Homo sapiens: one gene and its partners. The protein of the gene in region 2 purifies or fractionates together with the protein of the main gene of each other region. This does not show direct contact. Each region holds a gene or a part of one and is shown on either strand. Other genes may lie near its edges. The genes, in order: SF3B1, PRPF8, EAPP and DDX23.

Region 1 (7,024 bases), on a different chromosome or scaffold from region 2:
CCTGAAGTATCTTCCATTTCCAAGGCACATATAGTGTTAACATAATCCCTCACATAATTTCACTAATTATCTTCAAGCTTTAAGCATATTTTAAAGGCCTTAAGAACAAAAAGGAGAATCTCATTTTTCAGCATTTTTATTAGCTTTTTTAACCAAAGAATTTTGTGCTAACTCCAGCTGGGCACGGTGGCTCACACCTGTAATCCCAACACTTTCGGAGACTGAGGCAGGAGGATCTCTTGAGCCCAGGAGTATTTAAATAATAATAAAAACAAACGGCTGGGCATGGTGGTTCACACCTGTAATCCCAGCACTTTGGGAGACCGAGGCAGGTTAATCATTTGAGGCCAGGAGTTCAAGACCAGCTTGGCCAACATGGTGAAACCCCGTTTCTACTAAAAATACAGAAATTAGCAGGGCGTGGTGGTGCACGCCTGTAGTCCCAGCTACTTGGAAGGCTGAGGCACAATTGCTTGAACCCAAGAGGCGGAGGTTGCAGTGAGCCAAGACTACACCACTGCACTCCAGCCTGGGCAAGAGAGCAAGACCCTGTCTCAAAAATATATATATAATATTAATAATAAAAACAAGCAAAAAAGTTAAATCCTTCACACTACATAAATTTTTTCCCCTCATGCTATGTCCTTGATAAAGATGAAGACAGTAATTATAAATTCCTAAACACAAAAATATAACACTACCAAAAGTTAATTTTTTATGGGGAAGGCTTTCTAAATAACCTTTACCAATTTGGGCTATTTGGGAGAGTAAAGGAAAGACCACACTCCACAGCGGGCTATACCAATAGTTCACTACTATTTTGTGGTCTACATTTCCTGGTGAAAAAATTAAAAACATTTTTAAAAATATAAACATGGCCAGGTGCAGAGCCTCACACCTGTAATCCCAGCACTTTGGGAGGTAGGCCAAAGCAGGAGGATCACTTGAGACCAGCCTGGGCAACATGGCAAAACCCTGTCTCTACAAAAACTACAAATTTTTTTTAATTAAATAAATAAGCAACAAACATGACAATTTAACAAACTGGGACTTACCTTTCTCATTGGTGGTGTTCCATTCTTAATTTTTAAAAGCAACTTCATTATTTTTCTCTCTTTTTGCTCTTCTGGACTAAGTGTTGATTCATCAACATCAACCTATAGTAAAAAGAAAAAAATGTTAAGGGAAGTTGAAATGTTATGATTTATAATTCTGGAACACAATTAATAGTTTATTTCTGCTAGTATCACTTACCAATAGTTTATCAAAGTATTGAATATCATCAGGTTTTAAAAATGGAAGATTTCCAGATGGCTGGTCATTAACACTTTTCATAGTTCGATCTTCAGTTTGCATGTGGAAACCAGTCATACCACCCAAAGGTGTTGGAGTAGCTGTCAGCTTTCGAGCTGGAGTTCGAATAGGAACATAACCAGCTGGAGGAGGAAGTACCTAATAAAAGTTATAAGACAGTTTAGGATTTTCTTAACTTAAAAAACAGCATAATGAACAATATTTGCACTTAAAATATTTTAGTTTATTAGCTAATAAGGTTTTTATTTGCTTGGAGACAACATCTATCTTGCTTTTCTATCTTAATTAGAAACTTAAAATATATACTTCTCATCCACTAACTGATTATATCCGTGGTGTAGGGAACTGAGGAAACACAAGAGAAGAGCTTAGAAAATACTAATCACATTCAAACATGTTGTGGGTCAAAATGTCAAATTATTAAAAATTTGAAAATTATAAAATCTGAGTCAGCAATTCCAAAAAATGCTGTAGTCGAGCAAATAATGTTTCATAAGATTTATATAAAATGGAAATAAGCTCATATGGGGCATAAAACATAAAAAATTATATTTTAGTATTAAAATGTCACATAAATTCTTGCACTACAAAATCTTTTAAGTGTAAAACTCTACAAAAATTAGTTAAATGCATAAAAACTAAAACCAAAATGTTTGCCAAAGCCCTATAAAATACACACCACCTGATCAAACCTTTTGCAAAACGAGTAAAATTTCAAAAAATGCAGGCTGAAAATCACAAAGAAATTTTTTTTTTTTTTTTTAAAGCTGGTAACAGACTTCAAAAAAAAAAAACAACTTCTGGACAGGCCAGGATTACAGCACTTTGGGAGGCTGAGATGGGAGGAACGCTTGAGCCCAGGAGTTTGAGACCAGCCTTGGCAACATGGCAAGACCCCATCTCTATTTTATATAATTTAATATATAGTAAAAGAAAAAAAATACAACTTCTTGGAGAGGTCAATAAACCTATACACGTCTTCTCCAGTGAGCCTAAAATTGTTTTGTCTATTAAAGATTAAATTATGTTAAATTTATATTGATGCTATCTGTACTTTGCACAGATATTTTTTGTTGCTAGTTAACGTCTGCACCAGCACAGACCACTAAGCATTTTGGATAAAGTGGATACTCTAAAGATGTGAGGCCTAGAGAAATCAATGTCAAGTCCACAGGCATCACTTGCCATTAAGGATTTAAAGGTCTACTATATTTTTATATTCACTAGTAAGGACGTTGCTTATTAGTAGGATTCACTAAGGGAGACTTTTCCTCCTAGTGACACTAAGGAAATCAATGACTACGACTGAGAAAGACATGCAGGCAGTCAACAGTAAGTTCTGTCTATCTATACCCACAGTTCTATCTATACCCACAGCATTATGTGGAGGCTACAAAAAGCTTTAAGGCAAAACTTCATGCAAACTTGAAACAAATACTCTAACACAAATAACAGGGGATCAAAAACAAAACAAGGCTGGACACAGTGGCTCATGCCTATAATCCCCAGCAGTGTGGGAGGCCAATGTGGGTACTTTGAGCCTAGGAGTTTGAGACCAGCCTGGCAACACAGTGAGACTCCCGTATCTACAAAAAATAAAAAAATTAGCCAGGTATGGTAGTGCATGCCTGTAGCCCCAGCTACTCAGGAGGCTGAGGCAGGAGGATCACTTGAGCCCAGGAGTCCAAGGCTGCAGTGAGCTATGTCAGCGCCACTGCTCTCCAGTACGGGCAACACAGTGAGACCCTGTCTCTAAAACAAAACAAAACAACAAAAAACATACTCATGAACTGTTAAAAATCAATAGTCATTAACAGAAAAAGCTCTGTAAAGGCCATCAGATGACTTACAAAGTTATCTGGTTCCCCCTGGTTATGATGTCAGCTATACGACCACAGACTATCTTCAGACTAACAAATACTCCCTGAGTACCAGGTACCTAGAAAATTTTATAGTTCAAAATAAATTTTAGGTTGATATGATAAAAAGGCCAGGCACGGTAACTCACGCCTGTAATCCCAGCACTTTGGGAGGCTGAGAGGGACGGATCACTTGAGGTCAGGAGTTCAAGATCAGCCTGGCCAGCATGGCGAAACCCTGTCTCTACTAGAAATACAAAGATGAGCCGGGCATGGTGGTGGACACCTGTAATCCCAGGTACCTGGGAAACTCAGGCAAGAGAATCGCTTAAACCTGGGAGGCGGAGGTTGCAATGAGCCGAAATCACGCCACTGCACTTCAGCCTGGGCAACAGAGTGAGACTCCATCTTTTAAAAAAAAAAAAAAAAAAAAATTCTTTGTGTCCACTGACAATCCATAAACTTAAGTATATAAAATCTTGGTGAAGCACCAAGTAAAATAACCACAATCTCAACGAGCTTATTCCTGGGACTGCTAGAAAACTGAAGCACCAGCAGTTCTCAAAGTATAACCGATAGACCCATACACAAGTCTTTGAGATGTCTTTCAAAAAGTAATAAAAGTTTCATGTTGTTCATTTCTTTTCATCTCTATATGGAACTGAAATATACCTGGAAATAGCTAAGAGAATGGAATGACAATAGTAAATTTGGGCAAAGCCAATGCAAGCTTAATCAATTTTTTTCACTATTTAAAATAAATGTATATCCTAAATACCACCTCATTCAAATTTGATGTACTACCTTATATCCTTCTGGGAACATAGCATCTAATTCCTCATCAGAAAGTGGGCGATTTCTCTCATCAATTTCTCTTTCCCACCGCCAAGCCTGAAGCTGTTCAGGAGTCATACTCATTATGTGACCTACCAAGAAAAGCAAATTTTTATATAATCTATAGTACAAGACTGTATTATTACATACATTGAGATAAAAGACAGTTAAGATCAATCCTATTATTTGCTTTTATATTATAAACGCAAACCAAGACTTAAATTTGTATATCTCCTTATTCTTACTAGAAGTTGACATTAATAGTACACAGAATACCACAAAGGAAAAAATTAAATAATTTATGGAGAAAAAAACAATTATGTCCAATGAGACAGTTCTACCTGGAGTAGGGGTAGCCATGTTCATGGCTGGTGTGCCAATTGGTGTCTTTCCAGGGGTCAGAACTGGAGTGCTTCCACCCATCTGACTAGCTGGTGTTTCATCCCACCGTGATTTTCTTTTACTGGCTCCAGGAGTCGGTGTTTCACCAATAGAATCTCCACCTCGATCTGTTCGAGGAGTCTCAGCCCATCCACTTCCATGCCCAGGAGTATCTTTAAAAAGAAAGAGTGAGTAAAACCACAATTTTAATCACTGTTAAAATAATATTCTTTATTCTCAAACAGTTATACTCAAAACTATCAAGTTCTAAAATAGAATATTCCTAAAATGGTGACCCATTTAAAGTTGTTTGAGACCAGCCTGATCAACATGATGAAACTCTGTCTCTACTAAAAATACAAAAAGTAGCCAGGTGTGGTGGTGGGCGCTTGTAATCCCAGCTACTCAGGAGGCTGAAGCAAAAGAATCACTTGAACTGGGGAGGCAGAGGTTGCAGTCAGCCGAGAGCGCACCACTGCACTCTAGCTTGGGTGACAGAGCAAGACTCCATCTCAACAACAACAACAAAAAAAGTAAATTTGATGTTATGTACATTTTTCCATAATAAAAAACAAAGGGTAAGTCAGGCACAGTGGTTCATGCCTGTAATTCCAACACTTTGGCAGATCACTTGAAACCAGGAGTTCAACACCAGGCTGGGCAATGAAGCAAGACATTGTCTCTACAAAAAATTTAAAAATTAGCCAGGGGCCGGAAGCGGTGGCTCATGCCTGTAATCCCAGCATTTCAGAAGGCCGAGGGGGGCAGATCATCTGAGGTCGGGAGTTCGAGACCCGCCTGACCAGCATAGAGAAACCCCGTCTCTACTAAAAATACAAAATTAGCCGGGCTTGGTGGCGCATGCCTGTAATCCCAGCTACTCAGGAAGGCTGAGGCAGGAGAATCGCCTGAATCCGGGAGGTGGAGGTTGCAGTGAGCTGAGATCGCGCCATTGCATTCCAGTCTGGACAACAAGAGCAAAACTCCATCTCAAAAAAAAAAAATTAGCCAGGCATGGTGGCATGCCCCTATAGTCTCAGCTACTAAGAAGGCTGAGGTGGGAAGATCACTTGAGCCTAGGATGTCAAGGCTACAGTGAGCAAGACCCTATCTCTAAAGAAACACACAAAATCAAAGGTTACAGCCTACTAACTTTACTTTTACCTAAGGTTCTTCCTTAAATCTTAAACCACTTCAAGAAGTGGAAAAAATTAGGCATATGAACTGTTCTATTCTTAATCTGTCCCCCAAAAGCAGCTGGTTATTTATACGTGTCCACCCAGGAATAAACAGAACACATTTCAGTCTGTAAACATATCACTCAACATTTCACCCACACACCCATACTCCACTAGAAGTACCTCTCTCTGTTTTGGGGGTTTCATCCCATCTGTTTTTACGAGCACTGGAAGTTGCGCCTCCATGGCCTGGTGTCGCATGGCCTGGTGTATCACCTCGTCCAGGAGTAGCAGCTCCCGCTGGTGTGTGGCTAGGTGTAGGATCCCATATTTTTGAGCCTGGGGTTGCTCCAGGAGTCTCGCTTCCCTTTGCACGACCTGGTGTCTCATCCCATCTTAAGGAAGGAGTATGCCCAGGGGTCTTAAAAAAGCAAAAAAATTTTATTTCACACACCCACACAGAAATAATTAGAAAATTTCCATAAAATAAAAAACTTTAAACGAAAAATGTTTTAGTTCTATGCACTATAATTAATGAAAAGTTAGAAGACACTACCTCTACTTATAGGAAAAGATACCTACTTTCTAGCAAATGTTTATGATTAAAAACAATGTAAAGTTTCAATCCGAAGCACTGACAAAAGTCCCAGCTTAAAAAAACAAAATATTATCGATATGAATCTTTGATATGCCATTAATAGCTCTGTGACTGGGGGAAATCACTGAGGTTTCTCTATCTAGATCAGTAATCGAAGGCTTTCAGCTCTAATTACATTAGTACTTCTCAAAGTGGGGCTTAGAGACACATATTTAGGGGAGAAGGAATTCGTGTGTTCTAAGAAAATAGTCCTGTTGATGTTTTGTTTAATTGTGTGTGTTTAATTAATATAAACATGCTTTAGATCACCTATGTAATTTTTTTTTTTTTTTTTTTTTTGAGACAGAGTCTCGCTCTGTCACCCAGGCTGGAGTGCCGGGGCATGATCTTGGCTCACAGCAACCTCTGCCTCCCGGGTTCAAGTGATTCTCCAGCCTCAGCCTCCTGAGTAGCTGGGGTTACAGGTGCCTGCCACCACGCCGGGCTAATTTTTGTATTTTTAGTAGAAACAGGGTTTCTCCACGTTGGTCAGGCTGGTCTCGAACTCCTGACCTCGTGATCCACCCACCTTGGCCTCCCAAAGTGCTGGGATTACAGGCGTGAGCCACCGCACCAGGCCCCACCTATGTAATTATAACCAGATACCGTCACATGATTTCAATCTTGAGATCAGTTTGTATGTACAGTTACATGTGTACCAAATAATATTACCCTAGCTGATGCTGGCAAGATTAATGAAAAAAGATGAGAGGTGGATTTTCATTTGTTTTTTGACACAGGGTCTCACTCTGTCGCCCAGGTTGAGTGCAGTGGCACAATCACGGCTCACTGCAGTCTCCACCTACCAAGCTCAAGTGATC
Region 2 (7,024 bases):
TGGACCCTGAGGAGGACGCCCCTGTGTTGGACTGGTTCTATGACCACCAGCCGTTGAGGGACAGCAGGAAGTGAGTGATAGATGGAGATACTACACCTGGGAGGAGTTCTGGAAATGCAGAAGGAGTCCTGGGAGATCAGTAGGTGGTATGGGTTTGTCTAGCTGCTTACTTGAGGTGGGCCTTTCATTTTTTACCTAGGTATGTAAATGGCTCCACTTACCAGCGCTGGCAGTTCACACTACCTATGATGTCGACTCTCTACCGCCTGGCTAATCAGCTCCTGACAGACTTGGTGGATGACAACTACTTCTACCTGTTTGATTTGAAGGCCTTCTTTACGTCCAAGGCACTCAATATGGCCATTCCTGGAGGCCCCAAATTTGAACCTCTTGTTCGAGACATCAACCTACAGTGAGTTGGAGAGATTAGGGATTTTAGACATTTTGAGTTGAATGAAACGTAATCTTGATCCTTAAAGTCCTGATATAACTTCCAAATTAGTCTGTTTACACCAGGTGCAGTGGCTCACGCTGTAATCTCAGCACTTTGGGAAGCTGAGGCAGGAGGATTGCTTGAGCCCAGAAGTTTGAGACCAATCTGGGCAAAATGGCAAAACCCTATCTTTACCAAAAAATGTAGCTGGGCGTGGTGACACTCACAGCTTCGTGTAGTCTCAGTTACTTGGGAAGCTGAGCTGTGGGAGGATTGTTTGAGCCCAGGAGGTCACGGCTGCAGTGAACGATGATCATGCCATTGCATTCCAGCTTGGGTGATAAGAGTGAGACCCTGTCTCAAAAAAAAAAAAGTCTGCTTATTCTTGATGTTGTACCCTAGGGATGAAGACTGGAATGAATTCAATGATATTAACAAGATTATCATCCGGCAGCCTATCCGCACTGAGTACAAGATTGCTTTTCCTTACTTGTACAACAATCTTCCACACCATGTCCACCTCACCTGGTAAGAGACCTGGAACACAACATTTGGAAAGGAGAAGGCTGCTGTTTAGGTTGGGCCAGGGCGGGAAAACTTTGGCTGACTCTTCCTTTCATTTTAGGTACCATACTCCCAATGTTGTATTCATCAAAACTGAGGATCCTGACTTGCCAGCTTTCTACTTTGACCCTTTGATCAACCCAATCTCCCATAGGCACTCAGTCAAGGTGAGGAAGGGAAGGGATGCTTTCCCTCAGCTCTTCTAGGAGAAATGCGTGAGGTTGGCTGATGTTACTAAACGCTCAGGTGGAGGGAGATGTGTTTTCCGTCTTGCTAAGTGTTCCCCTTGAGCTATAAGCGAATATGAGAATTCAGCATTTGCTTTAAAACATGTCATTGGTATAATCCTGTTTTCTGTGATTATCCTTTTGGACTTTACGGTTCTTTTCTTGGGTGCTCTAGATAATCTGTCCCGGTCTGTCTCTATTGTGTTTGTTTGTTTTAGCCTTTATATTGAGATGTAGTTAACATACCATACAAGTTATCCATTTAAAGTGTGTAATTTGATGGTTTTTAGCTTATTCTCAGAGTTGTCCCAACTGTCACGACATGCAATTTGAGAATATTTTTATTACTTGAGAAAGAAACCCTTAGCAGTTACTCGCCATTTCTCCCCAACTTCCTTACGCAACCACTAATCTACTTTCTGTCTATAGATTTGGCTATTCTACACATTTCATATGATAGAATGAAATAGAATCGTACACTATGTAGTCTTCAGTGACTGGCTTCTTAAGCTTACCATAATGTTTTTGATGCTCATCTGTGTTCCGTTGTGTCCAAGCCCAGTGTTTGGAGCTTGGGTGGGAGATGATTGCAATGTTGACCTCCTGTGATGTTGGGGCTCCATTGGGAGGCTTTCTGGTGGTCAGCCAGTTGAGGTGTGAGAAGTGACGCTTGCTTTCCTGGTGGCCCTGTCTTGTTCTTTGCTGTCTTGGTTTCCTTTGTGCTGGCACTTCAGGGCTGCTTTTGTCAGACAGCCCAGTTTCCATAGCAGATACAGGCTTTGTGCTTGGCCCCAGAGAATTTCCCTCATCTTAAGTCTGTGCCTAGTTCAGCAGGAGCTAAACCCTTAGAGGGATTCCTTTTTCAGAGCCAGGAACCATTGCCGGATGATGATGAGGAATTTGAGCTCCCGGAGTTTGTGGAGCCCTTCCTGAAGGACACACCCCTCTATACAGACAATACAGCCAATGGCATTGCCCTGCTCTGGGCCCCGCGGCCCTTCAACCTACGCTCTGGTCGCACCCGTCGGGCCCTGGACATACCCCTTGTCAAGAACTGGTAAGGTTTTTCCCTGTGGCAGGGGGAATGATAGTGGATGTGTAGGAGAAAAGACTCCAACTAGGTGGGCATGTAGCCTTTTTTTTAAATTCTTTTTTTTTTTTTCCCATAAAAATGGTAGACAACCCAAGGCTTGCAGCCTTTAGCAGAGTGTCTGGAAGAAGAGATGGCCAAACTCTGGTGGGCTTATTTTTCCAGGTATCGGGAGCATTGTCCTGCCGGGCAGCCTGTGAAAGTGAGGGTCTCCTACCAGAAGCTGCTTAAGTACTATGTGCTGAATGCCCTGAAGCATCGGCCCCCTAAGGCTCAAAAGAAGAGGTAAGGTGCCCCAGGGGCCCTGCGCAGACTTCTGTTCCAGAGATATCAGTAGGCTGACTCTTACTCTCCATGTTCCCACCTCAGGTATTTGTTCCGCTCCTTCAAAGCCACCAAATTCTTTCAGTCCACAAAGCTGGACTGGGTGGAGGTTGGGCTCCAGGTTTGCCGCCAGGGCTACAACATGCTCAACCTTCTCATTCACCGCAAAAACCTCAACTACCTGCACCTGGACTACAACTTCAACCTCAAGCCTGTGAAAACGCTCACCACCAAGGTGCCTGCATTGGACCCTAGGGGCCTCCTGGGCTTCAAGGACGGACAGTTGTTTTCCTCTGGTTACTGATGAAGGCATACATCAGTTGGGTCCATTGCTCATTCACGTTCTGTCTGTTTTTTGCATCTTCTCCAGGAAAGAAAGAAATCTCGTTTTGGGAATGCTTTCCACCTGTGTCGGGAAGTTCTGCGTTTGACTAAGCTGGTGGTGGATAGTCACGTGCAGTATCGGCTGGGCAATGTGGATGCCTTCCAGGTAAGGTTAGGTATTCCCAACCCCTGCCTGGGTGAGGACGCTGGAGGAAGCCTGTGCTGACCGTGGAGCTGGTTTAAGCTCCAGGTCTGATGGGGCAATTGTATTGCAGCTGGCAGATGGATTGCAGTATATATTTGCCCATGTTGGGCAGTTGACGGGCATGTATCGATACAAATACAAGCTGATGCGACAGATTCGCATGTGCAAGGACCTGAAGCATCTCATCTATTATCGTTTCAACACGGTGAGACCTTGACTTTACTGACTTTCTTTTTTTTGAGACAGAGTCTTACTCTTGTCTCTTGGGCTGGTGTGCAATGGCACGATCTTGGCTCACTGCAACCTCCGCCTCCTGAGTTCAAGCAATTCTCCTGCCTCAGCCTCCCGAGTAGCTGGGATTACAGGTGCCCGCCACCACGCCTGGCAATTTTTTTTTTGTTTTGTTTTGAAACTGAGTCTTTCTCTGTTGCCCCAGCTGGAGTACAATGGCACGATCTTGGCTCACCACAGCCTCCGCCTCCCGGGTTGAAGTGATTCTCCTGCTTCAGCCTCCCAAGTAGCTGGGACTACAGGCGCGCACCACCATGCCTGGCTAGTTTTTGAAATTTTAGTAGAGATGGGGTTTCACTGTATTGGCCAGGCTGGTCTTGAACTCCTGACCTCAGGTGATCCACACTCCTCGGCCTCCCAAAGTACTGGGATTACCAGCGTGAGTCACCGTGCCCAGCCTCACTGGACTTAACTTTCTCAGATCTTTTTTCATGTATACATTTAGACAGGGCTCTTTCCAGGGACCTATTTGGAGAGCAGCTATGACTGTGTCCTTACTGCTCCTTTAAATTCACATGGGCGATCTTAGTTCCTGGTTTTTGCCTTAAGGTTTCTCATTTACCCTTTTGTTTTAGATGTTGAGGTCCCAGAGTTTTTTTTTCTTTTTACCCCTCTACTGCCATACCTACATTCCTCTGTATGTATATTATACATATATGCCCCACCTCTGCCCAGGTTTCTATTGTTGTTTAAATGCATTGCTAACTTGTATTCTTAACTTCTGCTTGGGATCGTAGGGCCCTGTAGGGAAGGGTCCTGGCTGTGGCTTCTGGGCTGCCGGTTGGCGAGTCTGGCTCTTTTTCATGCGTGGCATTACCCCTTTATTAGAGCGATGGCTTGGCAACCTCCTGGCCCGGCAGTTTGAAGGTGAGTGGTTTTCTCTGTGTCCAACTTCTCCTGTTATTGCTTCAAAAGTACCTGCCCCTGTTTGAGTCTGTTCCCTGCTCTTGTATGAGCACTCTTCCTACTGGATTGCCTTTAGGTCCAGTTCTGAAATGAGTCTGACCTAGTATTCTATTTCTTGGGCTTCCTTCTGGGGCCTTGAGAGGCAGTCATGCATTTGCAGGAGTGGAAATTCCTCAGAAGCATAGTTGTGAATGTTTAAGGTAGCTCGTCTTTTTGCATATGCTGGGCACAGGGACGCTTTGTTAATACCTAATTTTATTAATAACCATAATGAGTGAGGAGCATGAAGGTAGAGACCCTTATTGAAAGCAAGGAATCTTCCTTGTAATCCCCTTGGGACACTCTACTTCCAGGTCGACACTCAAAGGGGGTGGCAAAGACAGTAACAAAGCAGCGAGTGGAGTCACATTTTGACCTTGAGCTGCGGGCAGCTGTGATGCATGATATTCTGGACATGATGCCTGAGGGGATCAAGCAGAACAAGGCCCGGACAATCCTGCAGCACCTCAGTGAAGCCTGGCGCTGCTGGAAAGCCAACATTCCCTGGAAGGTGGGTGTCTCTTTATTTCCTTGGAGGCGTAAACATCCGTCTTTAGGGTAGGATTACCACTTCGGGAATCATTAGGGGGCTATCTGGCTCCAATCTCTTTTCTTTTCCCTTTTAGACAGGGAAAAGAAGCACCATGTTGCTTAGGCTGGCCTCAAGCTCCTGAGCTCAAGCGATCCTCCTTAGCCTCCTGAGTAGCCGGGACTACAGATGTGTGCCACAGTGCCTGGCTGGATCCTGGCTTGATTGTGCTTTTTGGACTTTTAGGTCCCTGGGCTGCCGACGCCCATAGAGAATATGATCCTTCGATACGTGAAGGCCAAGGCTGACTGGTGGACCAACACTGCCCACTACAACCGAGAACGGATCCGCCGAGGGGCCACTGTGGACAAGACTGTTTGTAAAAAGAATCTGGGCCGCCTCACCCGGCTCTATCTGAAGGCAGAACAGGAGCGGCAGCACAACTACCTGAAGGTTGGGCAGAGTAGGCTGGGCTGGGTGTGAGTGGTGGGGGAGTGGGCAAGAGGGAGGACTGTAGAGTTGTGACTGAACCTTGTTCTGGCAGGATCGGGCTGTAGCGGGAGGCTAATTTCATGTCCACCTTACAGGACGGGCCTTACATCACAGCGGAGGAAGCAGTGGCAGTATATACCACCACAGTGCATTGGTTGGAAAGCCGCAGGTTTTCACCCATCCCATTCCCCCCACTCTCCTATAAGCATGACACCAAGTTGCTCATCTTGGCATTGGAGCGGCTCAAGGAAGCTTATAGGTGAGTAGTAGGGTAGATAGGTTCCTGCTGGGAAGGTGACAGCAGGGAATGGCGTCATCCTCAGAGTCCAAAGAAAGAAGGTGTAGCCCCAGTCTTTCCTGGTTTTACTTCCTCCTAGTTTTCCCATTCACCCTTCCCATTGCTTTTGTCAGTGTGAAGTCTCGGTTGAACCAGTCTCAGAGGGAGGAGCTAGGTCTGATCGAGCAGGCCTACGATAACCCCCACGAGGCGCTGTCCCGCATCAAGCGTCACCTCCTCACACAGAGAGCCTTCAAAGAGGTGAGTGAGGCCTCCCAAGTTTTCTTTTTGGTTCTACCAAAGGTAGCAGTTGCCTTTGGTTCTACCAAAGGTAGCAGTTGGTGGATTGGTGTGAACCAGCCTCCTTGTCCCACAGGTGGGCATTGAGTTCATGGATCTGTATAGCCACCTCGTTCCAGTATATGATGTTGAGCCCCTGGAGAAGATAACTGATGCTTACCTGGACCAGTACCTGTGGTATGAAGCCGACAAGCGCCGCCTGTTCCCACCCTGGATTAAGCCTGCAGACACAGAACCACCTCCGCTGCTTGTTTACAAGTGGTGTCAAGGTAGAACTTTCATGAGATCGCCCTGTGAGGAACGGGGCAGGAATTTAGTTCTACGTCAAAAATCTCATCTGGGTAGCATGATTGGTTTACTCTCTTGATGCGTGGTAGTAAAGGGAAGTAGTGTTCGTGTTAAACTGAGGAAAAGCCCATAGTCAAAGCAATCCAAATGAATACGTGGAATCATAGTGGGATTGGTTATGGAAGGTAATGATAGTTCCTGTGGGGCTAGTCTTGCAAGAGGATTTCTAACCTGCTGGAGACCTGCCTTGCTACTCCTCAGGCATCAATAACCTGCAGGACGTGTGGGAGACGAGTGAAGGCGAGTGCAATGTCATGCTGGAATCCCGCTTTGAGAAGATGTATGAGAAGATCGACTTGACTCTGCTCAACAGGCTGCTGCGCCTCATCGTGGACCACAACATAGCCGACTACATGACAGCCAAGAACAACGTCGTCATCAACTATAAGGTGCGTCTCAGGCGCAGTAGCATGGAATTGTGTGTGGAGTGCTTGTCTGGCCCACTGACTCAGAATTTGCTGAGGAGGAGGCTGGGTGCGGTGGCTCATGCCTGTAATCCCAGCACTTTGGGAGGCTGAGGCGGGCAGATCACGAGGTCAGGAGTTCGAGACCAGTCTGGCCAACATGGTGAAACCCCGTCTCTACTTAAAAAAATACAAAAATTAGTTGGGTGTGGTGGTGGGCGCCTGTAATCCCAGCTACTTGGGAGGCTGAGGCAGGAGAATCACTTGAACC
Region 3 (7,188 bases), on a different chromosome or scaffold from region 2:
TTGCCCAGGATGGTTTTTTTGTTTGTTTGTTTGTTTGTTTCTTTTGAAACAGAGTCTCGCTCTTGTCGCCCAGGCTGTAGTACAGTGGCATGATTTCTGCTCACCGCAACCTCCACCTCCTGGGCTCAAGCGATTCTCCTGCCTCAGTCTCCCAAGTAGCTGGGATTACAGGATTCAGAATCCGTCTCAAAAAATACATAGATAGATATATAGATAGATAGATATCCTGGTTGTGATACTGCACTATAGTTTTGTAGTATGTTAACACTGGAGGAAACTGGGGAAAGAGTACACAGGATCTCTCTGTATTATTTCTTTTTTTTTTATTATTTTTTATTTTTTGAGATGGGGGTCTCCCTGTGTTGCCCAGGCTGGAGTGCAATGGTGCCATCTTGGCTCACTGAAACTTCCGCCTCCCAGGCTCAAGCCAACCAACCGCCTCACCCTCCTGAGTAGCTGGGACCACAGATATGCACCACCATACCAGCTAATTTTTTGTATTTTCAGTAAAGACATGATTTCATCATGTTGCTCAGGCTGGTCTTGAACTCTTGAGCTCAAGTGATTCTCCTGCCTTGGCCTTCCAAAGTGCTGGGATTACAGATGTGAGCCACTGCACCAGACCTGTATTATTTCTTATAACTGAATGTGAATCTACGAAAACTTCAAAATAAAATGTTTAATTTTTAAAAACTGAATCACAAAGTGAGAGCTATTTTTTCTACAAATTTTCTTCAATCCTTGTCATTATCTCAACCAAAGTCTCAGTTTTCAGCACTGCTGAGAAAGGCAGTCATACATCATGGACCCTAGATATGCAAGTTAAGTATGCCAAGAATGCAAGGTTCTGACCACTGTTCACTCCAGCCATTTCTCAGGATTGTGTTTGCAGCGAACAACAACCTTGAGGAATGAGATAATGTCTCCTTCCAGGACAAAGAGCAGATGTATTTACTGTCTTCTATGAAAGAGGTGGATTCTCCAAGCTCAAGTAGTCTTTAGCCACGATGCCAACCCACTGAATGTGCAGCATTCTTCTAGGACCCTCAGCGTAATACCTGTAGGGTTGACAAGCAAGAGCAAGCCACACAAACATGATGCTCATGCTGCTTGCTGTGCTATGTGTAGTCTTATCTTTGACCCAGGAGTCTCATGTCTTCGGTCAGCTACCGTGAAACAGTTAACAGGCTACAATGTATTAGTTTATAAACAGTGTAAAATTAAATACTGACAGACACCTCTCTAACACTAATCTCCCTTTTTAAAATAATAACCATTTGGCTCAGAGCCTACAACAGGCAATACTGTCTGATAACATTGTTTTGTTTTTATAATATTTATCTTTACAGTTACCTTACCAGTGGCAACTGTCACAGAATTATAAAGCTTCCTTAAAAAAATGATACAACAGTCCTGGCTCCGTGGCTCAGGCCTGTAATCCTAGCACTTTGGGAGCCCGACGCAGGCAGATTGCCTAAGGTCAGGAGTTCAAGACCAGCCTGGCCAACGTGGTGAAAACCCATCTCTACGAAAAATACAAAAAATAAGCCAGGTGTGGTAGCGCATGCCTGTAATCCCAGCTACCCAGGAGGCTGAGGCAGGAGAATTGCTGGAACCCAGGAGGTGGAGGCTACAGTGAGCCAAGATTGCACCAGTGCACTCCAGCCTGGCTGACAGAGTGAGACTCTGTCTCAAAATAAATAAATAAATAAATAAATAATTGAGACATACATATATACATACCTCCTTTCACAGACAGGACCCATTAACTGAAACTCTTTTTCACAGGGAATCCTGGTATCTATCCTCACTCCCAACAAAAGAAATCTTAACAGCAGTCTGATTTCCCATGCATCCAATGTCTCCCCATGACAATATGAGGAAACATTGTTCTTTTGATTTTTTTTTTTTTTAAGAAATGAGGTCTCACTATGTTGCCCAGGCTGTTCCTTTACTACCAGGCTTAAGAGATTCTCTCGCCTCAGACTCCCAAAGTCCTGGGATTACAGGCATGGGCCACCACACCCAGCCAAAGTTGTTAATGAAAGCATGGCTTTACAGAAAGCTTCTTTAGGCAGAATGAATGTTTTAAAGTTTAAGAATAGGATCTGCTGACAGCTTAAGAAATAACTAAATTTGTGTGGAAATATCTCGGCAAAACAGCTTCAAGTTTCCCTGGTAGAATAAAGCCCACCCTTCTGGAAATCCCACGAACCTTCTTCTGTGCCTATCTCAGGTCAATATTCTCTACAATGCTCTGCCAAGAAATATATACTTTATCTTATTACCCTTATTATACTATAAGCCTCTGGAAGACAAGGACCTTATGATTTATCTCTGTAGCTCAGAGCGAGCATACAACAGTCCCTGTCAAAAAATAAAAATAAAAAAGGCTGTTCAATATTCCCTTATTTCTGTTTATGGCAGTTTAGTCTTCAAGATGGACACTTCACATTAAGTCCTGTGAGCCTCACAACAAACATAGTGTGTTATACTATGTTATATAGGTTATACAATTATGTTATTATAGTTCAATTTTACAGGTGAGTAATCGAGGATAACTGACTTGCCTTCCGTCACTCTGCTACTAAGGTGTAGAGACAGGTTTCGATCTCATTGCTTTTGAAGATTTACACGCGGTCCCCCGTGATTCCGGAATATCCCTCTTCCTACAGGCGACATCGGCACCGCCTCCCCCCGGGACTGCGCGACCCCATCAGGAAAGCCCTTTGGCTTCGCACAAGTAACAGGCACGACAGGCTCCCGAGCCGCTAGGGTCTGCGTAGGCTCGGCAGGCGCAACGAATGGAGGCGACCAAAGCCAGGCCTCGACCCAAATCCTCGGGGGCCAGGGTGGGGCGGGAGCCCACCTGCTCAAAGCCGGCTCCTCGTCGCTAGGCTCTTCAACCGCGTAGGGGTCGTAGTCATCCGGAAGCCGGTTCATGGTGGCCTGCAGCGGCCTACACCGTCCACAAGCAATTTGCAGCGTCTCTGTTTACACTGCAAGTCCAGTCCCTAAAGCGCCCCTGACGCCACTTCCGCCTGAACGTCCCAGTCCCCCTTGCGCGCCCGCGCAGACCGACAGCACCGAGGGAGGCAGGTAGAAGGCGGGGAAGGGGCGGAGCAGGAGCGAAAAGGGGCGGGGACGGGACGGGGGCGGGTCTTAATCCCACCATTTTTGTTTTGTTTTGTTTTTTGGAGACGGAGTTTCGCTCTTGTTGCCCAGGCTGGAGTGCAATGGCGCGATCTCGGCTCACCGCAACCTCCGCCTCCCAGGTTCAAGCAATTCTCCTACCGCAGCCTCCCGAGTAGCTGGGATTACAGGCATACACCACCACGCCCGGCTAATTTTGTATTTTTAGTAGAGACGGGGGTTTCTCCATGTTGAGGCTGGTCTCGAACTCCGGACCTCAGGTGATCCGCCCACCTCGACCTTCCAAAATGCTGGGATTACAGGCGTGAGCCACCGCTCCCGGCCAATCCCACCATTTTCTTCCGCAGCTTCTGCTTACAGGAAAATAGCAGCTACCTTGTCACCAAAAATAATAATGATGGGCACCCTCATAAGTGACAGTCTCTGAGGTGAACATGCTACATGCAGCGTCTCATCACCTACGAAGCAGGAATCTAGACGCTGAGGGACACACAGCCCGAAATCCAATAAGTCCTCAGACACCAGCACCCACATCCCTCCAACCTCGCCTCTAACCCTTATGCCTTCCACACCATGAGGCTCTCAACCTCTCCTTCACACTGTTCACTCCTCAGTCTGACTGCGGCCTCAACAATCTACGAAAAGTTATCTTTTCTCGTCATCTTCCCAGTCCCCACTTTTGCTCAGCCCTCAACTGATCCCACTCGATACCTGAGGAGAACAGGCAGATGACAGCCACTTGAGCTCCATCGGGAGACTGTTTCTAACCCTGTTTCTGAACCAGGAACTCGGGTTCCTGCCTCCTACCGAGACACTGTGGCACTCTCTAAAATGTGGAGTAGCTGTAATAAATCTACTCCTGTATTATGCTTTACAGTGCAGGTCTTAGTTTTTCTTTTTTCTCATTTCTTTTGAAATGGCATCTCGAACAAAGTCCACCAATCCCTTTACAAAAGAATGAACTGCTCCTCTGTGTGTACTTCATAGAAGGTGGAATCGGACAGAAGCAGGTTAGTGACAGTTATTCCTGAAATACAGGAGCAGAGTACAGTCTGTTGTGGTTTCCCGGATTCCGCGCCTAGCTCAGCCAATTAAGCATGAGACATAGGCCATTGAGCCACTTAGTAGTTATGCGAGTGGATAGATTGGTATGTAGAGGGAAAGAGGTCTGCTGTAAAGAACAACACTTGTTTGTCTGTGGGGAAAGAAAAGCAGAATACTTGAGATGAAAGTTGGCATACAAATAGGATACTATCGCCAGTAGTTATATTACAAACATTATCGGCCTTTCTAGTGTGAATGAACATTAGACACATTATTGTCATTCCTAGTTTAAAGTTAAGGTTGCGTGGTTGGATTTTTCCACTATCTTTTTCTAATTTTTCTACCATTTGGAGACCGTAGGCATTTGGGCCTGTCACCCCTTGGATGGGTTCCTAGTTTGTTTACATTTTCCTGAACCCTCCTGAGCGCCCGTTCTTGGTCTAATCCCCAGTCGTGATGATTCCACACTTCCTCAGCCGCATGTTGTCTTGCCTCATTCATGAGCTGGTCAGCGTTTCGTCTCTTTAACTGACATGTTCCCCAGTGCTGTTTGAACTGTTGAGTTTCCGTTGCTGGCTGAGTGCGTTTTGTCCTTCACGTAACCTTCGCTGGTAAAAATAAGCCCATGTGATGTCCACCAGTGGATGAATGCTGGACCGAGAGCCCTAGCTTCTGGATCCAGGTCTAGGCCCTTCATCTGCTGCTCTGTGGCCCAGGGCAGGTTTGCTTGACCTCTGCCTCAGTTCTCGACTCTAAAGGACATACTGACCTACCTCACAGGGGTGTTGTGAGGATTAATAAATGTTGGTACTCTGCTTTGGAAATGTGAAAATGCTGTGTAAATGTTAAGAAATACTAAGTATAGGGCCAGAAGCTATACAGTGTTTCACTTAACCGTTTGCCATTCTGTATTTACCAAGGTGGTCTTTTCTGGGGAAGGAAGTAGAGTGGAAGGTGCATCCCTTGGCCCCTGGTTTACATTATTAGGGTGCTTATTGTAGGAATGCACTCTAAAAAGTGGGCGTAGAATGAAAGCAGCCGTCCAGTGGTCCTCCCTTTTCTGTAGTTTCACTTTTCTTGCTTCAAGTTACAGCAGTCACCTGAAATCTGAAAATACTAAATGAAAAACTCCAGAAACAATTTATGTCTTAAATGTTGTGCTGTTCTGAGTAGCGTGATGAAATCTGTTGCCGTCCTACCTGGAACATTGAGTCATGCCTCTGTCCAGTGTGTCCATGCTGTATACACTGTCCACCCATCAACCAACCACTAAGTAGCTGTCTTGGTTGTCAACATAACAGATCACAAGAAGATTGAGGTTGGGTGTGGTGGCTTACCCCTGTAATCCCAGCACTGTGGGGGTCCAAAGTGGGAAGATTGCTTGAGCCCAGGAGTTCAAGACCAGCCTGGGCAACTAAGCGAGATCCTATCTCTCGAAAAAATTTTAAAACAACTTTTTGGCTGGGCGTGGTGGCTCACGCCTGTGATCCCAGCACCTTGGGAGGCCAAGGCGGGCGGATCACGAGGTCAGGAGATCAAGACCGTCCTGGCTAACACGGTGAAACCCCGTCTCTACTAAAAATACAAAAAATTAGCCAGGCGCAGTGGCGGGCACCTGTAGTCCCAGCTACTCGGGAGGCTGAGGCAGGAGGATGGCGTGAACCCGGGAGGTGGAGCTTGCAGTGAGCTGAGATTGCGCCACTGCACTCCAACCTGGACGACAGAGCGAGACTCCGGCTCAAAAAAAAAAAAAGAATTAGCTGGGCGTGGTGGCGGGTGCGTGTAATCCCAGCTACTCGGGAGGCTGAGGCAGGAGAATCACTTGAACCTGGGAGGCAGAGGCTGTAGTGAGCCAAGATCGCGCCATTGCATTCCAGGCTGGGCAACAAGAGCGAAACTCTGTCTCTAAATAAATAAAATAAAATAAAATAAAATAAAATAAAATAAAATAAAAAATGGCATGTAATATAAAAATGAGGGGAGAACCCTTTTAGGCAGGATTTAACTTTGGCTACAGGTAACTAAAACAATGAGCAGCTTAGACAGGACTTATTTTTCTCACCTACCCAGAATTTAAGGGGTAGCAGTTTGGGGCTGTTGGCCAGGCTATTCACCAGGCGGCCCCTCCTCCGTCTGCTCTACCATGCCAGGTGTAAGGTCTCCCGGCCATGATTGTTGCTTCCAGGTACCAAGGCGGCCGCTACACTCCAGGCCTGAGTCTGACTTCCAGGTAGAAAAAGGGGGTAGGGACAAAGACTTTCTTCAAAAAGTGGCTTGGCCTTTTTATTCTCCTGGAGATGCCCTTTCCGGGGACGTGTGTCTAACTGGCCAGAACTGTGTTGTGTGATGAGGAAGTTGAGCTGTTTTAGCTGGGTGTGTTGATCCTGTGGACAAAATCAGGGTCTGTTAGTAAGACAGGAGTGGCCACTGCAGGATACCCTGCCAACAGCACAGAACGAGTCTGGACCTGAGAAACAGTAAAACTGACCTGTGATTAGAGGTTTCGTTTGTTGTTGTTGTTGTTTGTTTTTTATGTGTTTTTTTTGGTTCTTGTTTTGTTTTTTGTTTTTTGTGACGGAGTCTCACTCTGTCGTCCAGGCTGGAGTGCAATGTCGCGATCTCGGCTCATTACAACCTCCGCCTCCTGGGTTCAAGTTTTTCTCCCGCCTCAGCCTCCGGAGTAGCTGGGATTACAGGAACCCGCCATCATGCCCAGCTAATTTTTGTATTTTTTAGTAGAGACGGGGTTTCACCATGTTGGCCAGGCTGGTCTTGAGCTCCTGACCTCAGGTTATCCGCCCGCCTTGGCCTCCCAAAGTGCTGGGATTACAGGCGTCAGCCACCGCGCCCGGCCCAGAATTTTTTTTTTTTTAATTATTTTACATGAGAGGCCGGGTGCGGTGGCTCACACCTGTAATCCCAGCACTTTGGGAGGCCGAGGAGGGCAAATCACGAGGTCAGGAGATGGAGACCATCCTGGCCAATATGGTG
Region 4 (7,024 bases), on a different chromosome or scaffold from region 2:
GGATATGAGCCTGGGAGGCAACGGTTGCTGTAAGCCAAGATCACACCACTGCACTCCAGCCTAGACAATAGAGCGAGACTCCATCTCAAAAAATAAATAAATAAATAAATAATAAATACATAAAAATCAGAGATTCAGCCAGGTGCAGTGGTTCACGCCTGTAATCCCAGCACTTTGGGAGGCCAAGGCAGGCAGATCAGTTGAGATCGGGAGTTTGAGACCAGCCTGGCCAACATGGTGAAACCTCATCTCTACTAAAAATGTAAAAATTAAGGACAGGCACACTGGCTCACGCCTGTAATTCCAACACTTTGGGAGGCTGAGGCAGGCAGATCACTTGAGGTCAGGAGTTAGAGACCAGCCTGACCAACATTGAGACCCCGTCTCTACTAAAAATACAAAAAAATTAGCCGGGCATGGTGACGGGCACCTATAATCCCAGCTACTTGGGAGGCTGAGGGAGGAGAATCACTTGAACCTGGGAGGAGGAGGTTGCAGTGAGCCGAGATTGCGCCATTGCACTCCAGCCTGGGCAACAAGAGCGAAACTCCGTCTCAAAAAACAAAACAAAACAAAAAACCAAAAATTAGCTAGAAGTGGTGGCACACGCCTGTAATCCCCAGCTACTCAGGAGGATGAAGCAGGAGAATCACCTGAACCTGGGAGGCAAAAGTTGTAGTGAGCTGAGATCGTGCCACTGCACTCCAGCCTGGGTGACAGAGTGAGACTCTGCCTCAAAAAAATAAATAAAATAAATCAGAGACTCCAGGATAGCAAAGTTCTCCAGGTCTTTGCCAGCAACATATACTTCTTCGATATCATGATCCAATTATTCCCTAATATCCAACAAAGAATAAAGAAGAAAGCTTCTGATTATAGACGTAAAACAAAAATCAAACATTCATTTGCCACTTTCACCTTTCCTACCCAGACAAACCCACTCCAGCTGGTGCTAGCTGACCTCACCTGTCAATTTTGGGAAGTGTGGTGATCCAGACCAGCAGAGGGATGAGGAAGGCTGCTGTCTTGCCACTGCCAGTCTCAGCCACACCAATGATGTCACGATTCTGTAGCCCAATGGGAATTGCCTGACGCTGTATAGGTGTTGGTTCCTGCAGTGACCCCAAGAAAGAGTAATAGGTACAGGGAGAGTTATACCACCTGGGCAACCACTGATAGTAGTAAGCACATCTGCTAGCACAATGGAAGGATGCCAAGTACAGTTCACAGAAATAGGGACCCCAAGAAGAAACCTAATCACTAAAAGCCAACACTTCTACCAGAAAGTGACAGAAAAGGTCACATTGGTGCCCACTAGCAGCGATGGCTCCAAATAGTCAAGGAACAAAGTTCTCTATTCCCAAACTAGTGTAGGAACATGTCAGATCTCTTGGGCCAATCTATCCCTCCTTACCTTGTAGCCACACTTATCAATGACCTCCAAGATGTGTGGGGGCAGAGAAGAGTCTTTCCAGGATCGGATGGGATTGGGGATCTTGCCACCTTTGGTGGTGATGCTGTAGTCCTCACGGAAGATCCGCCAGTCCCTGTCCGTCATCTCATCTAACTTTTTCTGAGACCAATGACGATCATCCCAGCGCTGCTTGGCTTCCTTCTTACGAAGTTTGCGGAGTCTTGCCCTGGAGCAGGGTGTGAGGAGTAAGTAGAATCAGTGCCCTCCAACTCCTTTCTGTAGAGCCTCTGGGCTCTGTCCAGCCACCCTAGCCTTGATCACTCACTCCTCCTGCTCCTTTTCTTCCAGGGTTCGCCTCTTCTCCATTAGGTCTCCATAGAAACGTGACTGCTCTCGCTTCTGCTGCTTGAGGTCAATGCCTGCAATGAAGCCTCGCCCTAACAACTGCACCTGGTGCCGTTCTTTGTACCTGGGATTGAGATAGAGGAAAAGAAAAAAGAAGGAGCTGTTAACGGCAGTAGGAAGGAAGGGCAGACTACTAGTATGAAACAGTTCTTCCCAGACAGGGTCTTTCTTCCACCAGAGGGCTGGCTGACTACCAGTCTACCAATTTTCCATCCCAGCTTATCTTACTTCCTCCACCTCCGTAGTCATCAGCTCTCTAGGACTGCCTAGTGGAAAAGACCTAGAACTCAGGCCTGAAGCCACTCACAGGGGGTTGTAGTCAATGGATGTGTCCTCAGATGCATCCCACTCAAAAACAAATTTCCGGTCATTGAGATGTCTCGTTCGGCGCCGCTTTTTGATGCCACCCAGGTAACGCTCCTACCCAGGGACAGAACACAAAGCACATGAGCTTTGAGGCCCAATTCTCACATGCAGAGATCACAATGGCCAAATAACTAAACCTCATTTTTGTGTGGGAGAGAAGTGAAGATGGAGCCAAGGCCTGCACCTTAATGGCATGCAGTTCCTTGCTCTTATCCTTCTCTTCCCGGATCTTCTGCCGCCCTTCCTCATCCTCATTTCCATTGGTCTCCCGTTCCATCCTCTCCCTGCGTTCCCGACGTTCCCGTTCCTGAGGATCTTCTGCAGACCAAAGAAAGCAAAGCTGCAGAAGAGCTCATGGAAGAAAAGAGGAGAGGGAATGGAGGGAATCCAGACGAGGAACCCCAAATGAAGAAAAAAAGGGGTAGACTTATGATATGGGGTAAATGGAGATCTAACAGAAAAATGTTTTCTCATAAACTCCCACCATCCTTCCCCTTTCCAAACTCCAGAGTGAACAGGTTTCTATCTCTCCTAAGAGACACTGTATCTCATCCCACTCTTTCCTCTTCCATCTAGGGGCTACACAGGGTAGAATAACAAACCCAACATCTTCCTGCCCAAGTCTTGGAACTGTTTCCTTTTCTTCCTCTCTTCTTCAAGCATCCTCTGCCGCTCTTCCACCTCCTGCTGCCGTCGCTTTAGAGCTTCAGCCTCTCGTTCTGCTTTAGAGAGGAACTTGGGCTACAAAAGAGATTGGAACTGTCAACAAAGGATCTGGGAGCAGGGTACAATCACATCACTGATGGGGAGATGGCAGGGAACCCAAAAGTATTTGCTCAGGCATTAAGCCTGTTGAGGAAAACACAAATAGGCCTTGGACTCGGTTATGGACTGAACTATGTCCCCTACAGAATTCATATGTTTTTTCAGGCTGGACGTGGTGGCACATGCCTGTAATCCCAGTGTTTTATGAGACCTAGATGGGAGGACCGCTTGAGGCCATGAGTTCAAGACCAGCCTGGGCAACATAGCAGACCTTGTTTCTACAAAAATAAAAAAACTCAGCCAGACATGATGGCATGTGCATATAGTCCCAGCTACTCAGGAGGCTGAGGCAGGAAAATCATATGAGCCCAGGAGTTTGAGGTTACAGTGAGCTGTGATTGCACCACTGTACTTTAGCCTGGGCAAACGAGCAAGACCTTACCTTTAAAAAAAAAAAAAAAATGTGGCCGAGTGCGGTGGCTTGTGCCTGTAATCCTAGCACTTTGGGAGGCCGAGATGGGCGGATCACGAGGTCAGGAGTTCAAGACAAGCCTGGCCAGCACAGTGAAACCCTATCTCTACTAAAAAAATACAAAAAATTAGCCAGGCATGGTGGCACGTGCCTGTAATCCCAGCTACTCAGGAGGCTGAGGCAGGAGAATTGCTTGAACCTGGGAGGCAGAGGTTGCAGTGAGCCGAGATCATGCCACTGCACTCCAGCCTGGGCAACGGGGCGAGACTCCATCTCAAACAAACAAACAAACAATGCATGTGTTATATATATTTTTTGAGACAGACTCTCGCTCTGTTGCCCAAGCTGCAGTACAGTGGTGTCATCATGGCTCACTGCAGCTTCAACCTCCTGGGCTCAAGCAATATCCTTGCCTCAGCCTCCTGAGTAGCTGGGACTACAGGCGCATGCTACCACAGATGGCTAATTTTTAAAATTTTATAGAGATGGGTTTTCACCATGTTGCCTAGGCTGGTCTAAAAATCCCTGGCTCAAGTGATCCTCCCATCTTGGCCTTCCAAAGTATTGGGATTACAGGTGTGAGCCACTGTACCCAGCTCAAAATTCCTATGTGGAAGCCCTAACTCCTAGTACCTCAGAATTTGACTATATGTGGAGACAGGACATGTAAAGAGGTGATTAAGTTAAAATGAGCCCATTAGGCTGGGCACAGTGGCTCACGCCTGTAATCCCAGCACTTTGTGAGGCCAAGGAGGGCAGATCACTTGAGCCCAGGGGTTCGAGACCAGCCTGGACAACGTGGTGAAATCTGGACTCTACAAAAAATACAAAAATTAGCTGGACGTTGTGGCACGCACCTGTAGTCCCAGATACTTGGGAGGCTGAGGTGGGAGGATTGCTTCAGCCTGGGAGGTGGAGGTTGAAGTGAGCCGATATCATGCCACTGTACTCCATCCTGGGCGACAGAGTGAGACTCTGTCTCAAAAAAAAAAAAAAAAAAAAAAAAAAGGGCCTTTTAGGGTGAGCCCTAATCCAACACAAGGGGTACATGTGTACAGAGGGAGGACCATGTGAAGAGCTGAGGAAGAAGACAGCCTTATAAGCCAAGGAGAGAGACCTCAGAAGAAATAACCCTGCTGACACTCCGCTCTCAGACTTCCAGCCTCCAGAACTGTGAGAAAATTAACTTCTGTCGTTGAAGTCACCCAGTCTGTGGTATTGTGTTATGGCAGCCTGAGCCGATGAATGAAGACCCTCAAGTACTTACCTTAGCCTCAGCTTCTTCCTCAGCCTTTTTCTTGGCCAGAAGCTCCTCCAGGGATAATGGCTGGGCCTGAAGATAAAACAGAACTTTAGTCTATAAAGGCTCTCTCCCTTTAAAGATCAACAAAGCAACGCACGAGTTGAAGATGAAAAATATCCTTCCTCTCCTTTACCTTAGGCTTCTTATCACCATGTTCATCCTCTTCATCCTTCTTAGAGTCTCTGTCCTTCCGAGATTTAAAGTCTTTTCCTCGACCAGGAGATAAGCTTTGAGGAAAAGGAACAAGGTCCACATCACTCTTACTTCAGTGCCTGGATGAGGTTCAAGTTGAGCCCCGAAAAGAGAATGGAAGTTTCCCCATGACTCAACAAGACTGGCCCATGGTCATCTATCATGTCTTGAAACTCTCTTAGCAGGCATGGTCATTCTGCCAGCTCTGAAACCTAATTATGGCCCTGTCTTGGCCCCTTTCTACCCAAATCTCCTTTTGAGACTAATCTCTTTTGGGAAGTGGGACTTTACTACTGATGTCAAAAATATTTCCCCTAGGCCAGGCGCGGTGTCTCATGCCTATAATCCCAGCACTTTGGGAGGCTAAGACAGGTGGGTTACCTGAGGTCAGGAGTTCAAGACCAGCCTGGCCAACATGGCAAAACCCTGTCTCTAGTAAAAACACAAAAATTAGCCAGGTGTGGTTGTTTAGAGAAAAATTTTTTTTTTTTTTTTTTTTGAGACACAGTCTCACTCTGTCGCCCAGGCTGGAGTGCAATGGTGTGATCTCAGCTCACTGCAACCTCCGCCTCCTGGGTTCAAGAAATTTTCCTGCCTCAGCCTCCTGAGTAGCTGGGACTACAGGCGAGTACTGCCACCACTGGCTAATTTTTATATTTTTAGTAGAGACGAGGTTTCATCATGTTGGCCAGGCTGGTCTCGAACTCTTGACCTCAGGTGATACATCCACCTCGGCCACCCAAAGTGCTAGGATTACAGGTGTGAGCCACAGCGCCTGGCCCTCCTTAACTCTTTAATATACAATGAATTTAGCCTACATGGCCACCACCACAAGCCAAGAAGATACTGCTATCTATATTCCCTCATCATTTTTCATTCCTATCAATCCCAACAATCCTTTCCCCATACCTGCTCTAAGCTTAATCTACAAGATAATTCAAACAACCCCACTGAGTTTCTGTTAGGAGCATTCTGTCCTCTGCCTTGAATTCTAACCTATACTTTCAGGGCCTGATAAGAACTCTGTATACAGGCCAGGCACAATGGCTCACGCCTGTAATCCCAGCACTTTGAGAGGCCGAGGTGGCCGGATCACCTAAGGTCAAGAGTTCGAGACCAGCCTGGCCAACATGGAGAAACCCTGTCTCTACTAAAAATACAAAAATTAGCCAGGCATGGTGGCGCATGCCTGTATTCCCAGCTACTTGGGAGGCTGAGGCAGGAAAATTGCCTGAACCCAAGAGGCAGAGGTTGCAGTGAGCCGAGATCGTGCCATTGCACTCCAGCCTGGGCAACAGAACAAAAACTCCATCTCAAAAAAACCCCCAAAGATTCAGAGAAGAATCCATAGATAGAAAAGCTTCAGGCTCCCTCTCCCCTCTCCCCTCTCCCCACGGTCTCCCTCTCCCTCTCTTTCCATGGTCTCCCTCTGATGCTGAGCCAAAGCTGGACCGTACTGCTGCCATCTCGGCTCACTGCAACCTCCCTGCCTGATTCTCGTGCCTCAGCCTGCCGAGTGCCTGCGATTGCAGGCGTGCGCCGCCACGCCTGACTGGTTTTCGTATTTTTTTGGTGGAGACGGGGTTTCGCTGTGTTGGCCGGGCTGGTCTCCAGCTCCTGACCGCGAGTGATCCGCCAGCCTCGGCCTCCCGAGGTGCCGGGATGGCACACGGAGTCGCGTTCACTCAGTGCTCAATGGTGCCCAGGCTGGAGTGCAGTGGCGTGATCTTGGCTCGCTACAACCTCCACCTCCCAGCTGCCTGCCTTGGCCCCCCAAAGTGCCGAGATTGCAGCCTCTGCCCGGCCGCCATCCCATCTAGGAAGTGAGGAGCGTCTCTGCCAGGCCGCCCATCGTCTGAGATGTGGGGAGCGCCTCTGCCCTGCCGCCCCGTCTGGGATGTGAGGAGCGTCTCTGCCCGGCCGCCCCGTCTGAGAAGTGAGGAGACCCTCTGCCTGACAACCGCCCCGTCTGAGAAGTGAGGAGCCCCTCCGCCCGGCAGCCACATCGTCTGAGAAGTGAGGAGCCCCTCCGCCTGGCAGCCACCCCGTCTGGGAAGTGAGGAGCGTCTCCGCCCGGCAGCCACCCCGTCCGGGAGGGAGGTGGGGG

The links.
Region 1: the proteins of PRPF8 (region 2) and SF3B1 purify together in Homo sapiens (affinity purification with mass spectrometry; 5 studies listed by BioGRID and IntAct, with this or other methods). This does not show direct contact.
Region 3: the proteins of PRPF8 (region 2) and EAPP purify together in Homo sapiens (affinity purification with mass spectrometry; 5 studies listed by BioGRID and IntAct, with this or other methods). This does not show direct contact.
Region 4: the proteins of PRPF8 (region 2) and DDX23 purify together in Homo sapiens (affinity purification with mass spectrometry; 7 studies listed by BioGRID and IntAct, with this or other methods). This does not show direct contact.

The regions. Positions count from the first base shown.
Region 1 is NC_000002.12:197,404,021-197,411,044, forward strand, and holds part of SF3B1 (splicing factor 3B subunit 1), read right to left. Parts: intron 5,988-7,024; coding exon 5,750-5,987; intron 4,562-5,749; coding exon 4,349-4,561; intron 4,100-4,348; coding exon 3,978-4,099; intron 1,453-3,977; coding exon 1,255-1,452; intron 1,158-1,254; coding exon 1,056-1,157; intron 835-1,055; exon of another isoform or gene 698-834; intron 1-697. UniProt on the Homo sapiens protein: Component of the 17S U2 SnRNP complex of the spliceosome, a large ribonucleoprotein complex that removes introns from transcribed pre-mRNAs.
Region 2 is NC_000017.11:1,674,866-1,681,889, reverse strand, and holds part of PRPF8 (pre-mRNA-processing-splicing factor 8), read left to right. Parts: coding exon 1-70; intron 71-199; coding exon 200-412; intron 413-835; coding exon 836-961; intron 962-1,058; coding exon 1,059-1,164; intron 1,165-2,090; coding exon 2,091-2,281; intron 2,282-2,479; coding exon 2,480-2,599; intron 2,600-2,683; coding exon 2,684-2,873; intron 2,874-3,008; coding exon 3,009-3,128; intron 3,129-3,237; coding exon 3,238-3,372; intron 3,373-4,195; coding exon 4,196-4,325; intron 4,326-4,717; coding exon 4,718-4,914; intron 4,915-5,178; coding exon 5,179-5,385; intron 5,386-5,519; coding exon 5,520-5,683; intron 5,684-5,835; coding exon 5,836-5,962; intron 5,963-6,077; coding exon 6,078-6,270; intron 6,271-6,550; coding exon 6,551-6,738; intron 6,739-7,024. UniProt on the Homo sapiens protein: Plays a role in pre-mRNA splicing as core component of precatalytic, catalytic and postcatalytic spliceosomal complexes, both of the predominant U2-type spliceosome and the minor U12-type spliceosome.
Region 3 is NC_000014.9:34,536,686-34,543,873, forward strand, and holds the start of EAPP (E2F-associated phosphoprotein), read right to left. Parts: upstream 3,017-7,188; 5' UTR 2,944-3,016; coding exon 2,870-2,943; intron 1-2,869. UniProt on the Homo sapiens protein: May play an important role in the fine-tuning of both major E2F1 activities, the regulation of the cell-cycle and the induction of apoptosis. Promotes S-phase entry, and inhibits p14(ARP) expression.
Region 4 is NC_000012.12:48,835,155-48,842,178, forward strand, and holds part of DDX23 (probable ATP-dependent RNA helicase DDX23), read right to left. Parts: intron 4,953-7,024; coding exon 4,859-4,952; intron 4,756-4,858; coding exon 4,690-4,755; intron 2,927-4,689; coding exon 2,788-2,926; intron 2,504-2,787; coding exon 2,370-2,503; intron 2,240-2,369; coding exon 2,127-2,239; intron 1,884-2,126; coding exon 1,740-1,883; intron 1,641-1,739; coding exon 1,415-1,640; intron 1,113-1,414; coding exon 967-1,112; intron 1-966. UniProt on the Homo sapiens protein: Involved in pre-mRNA splicing and its phosphorylated form (by SRPK2) is required for spliceosomal B complex formation.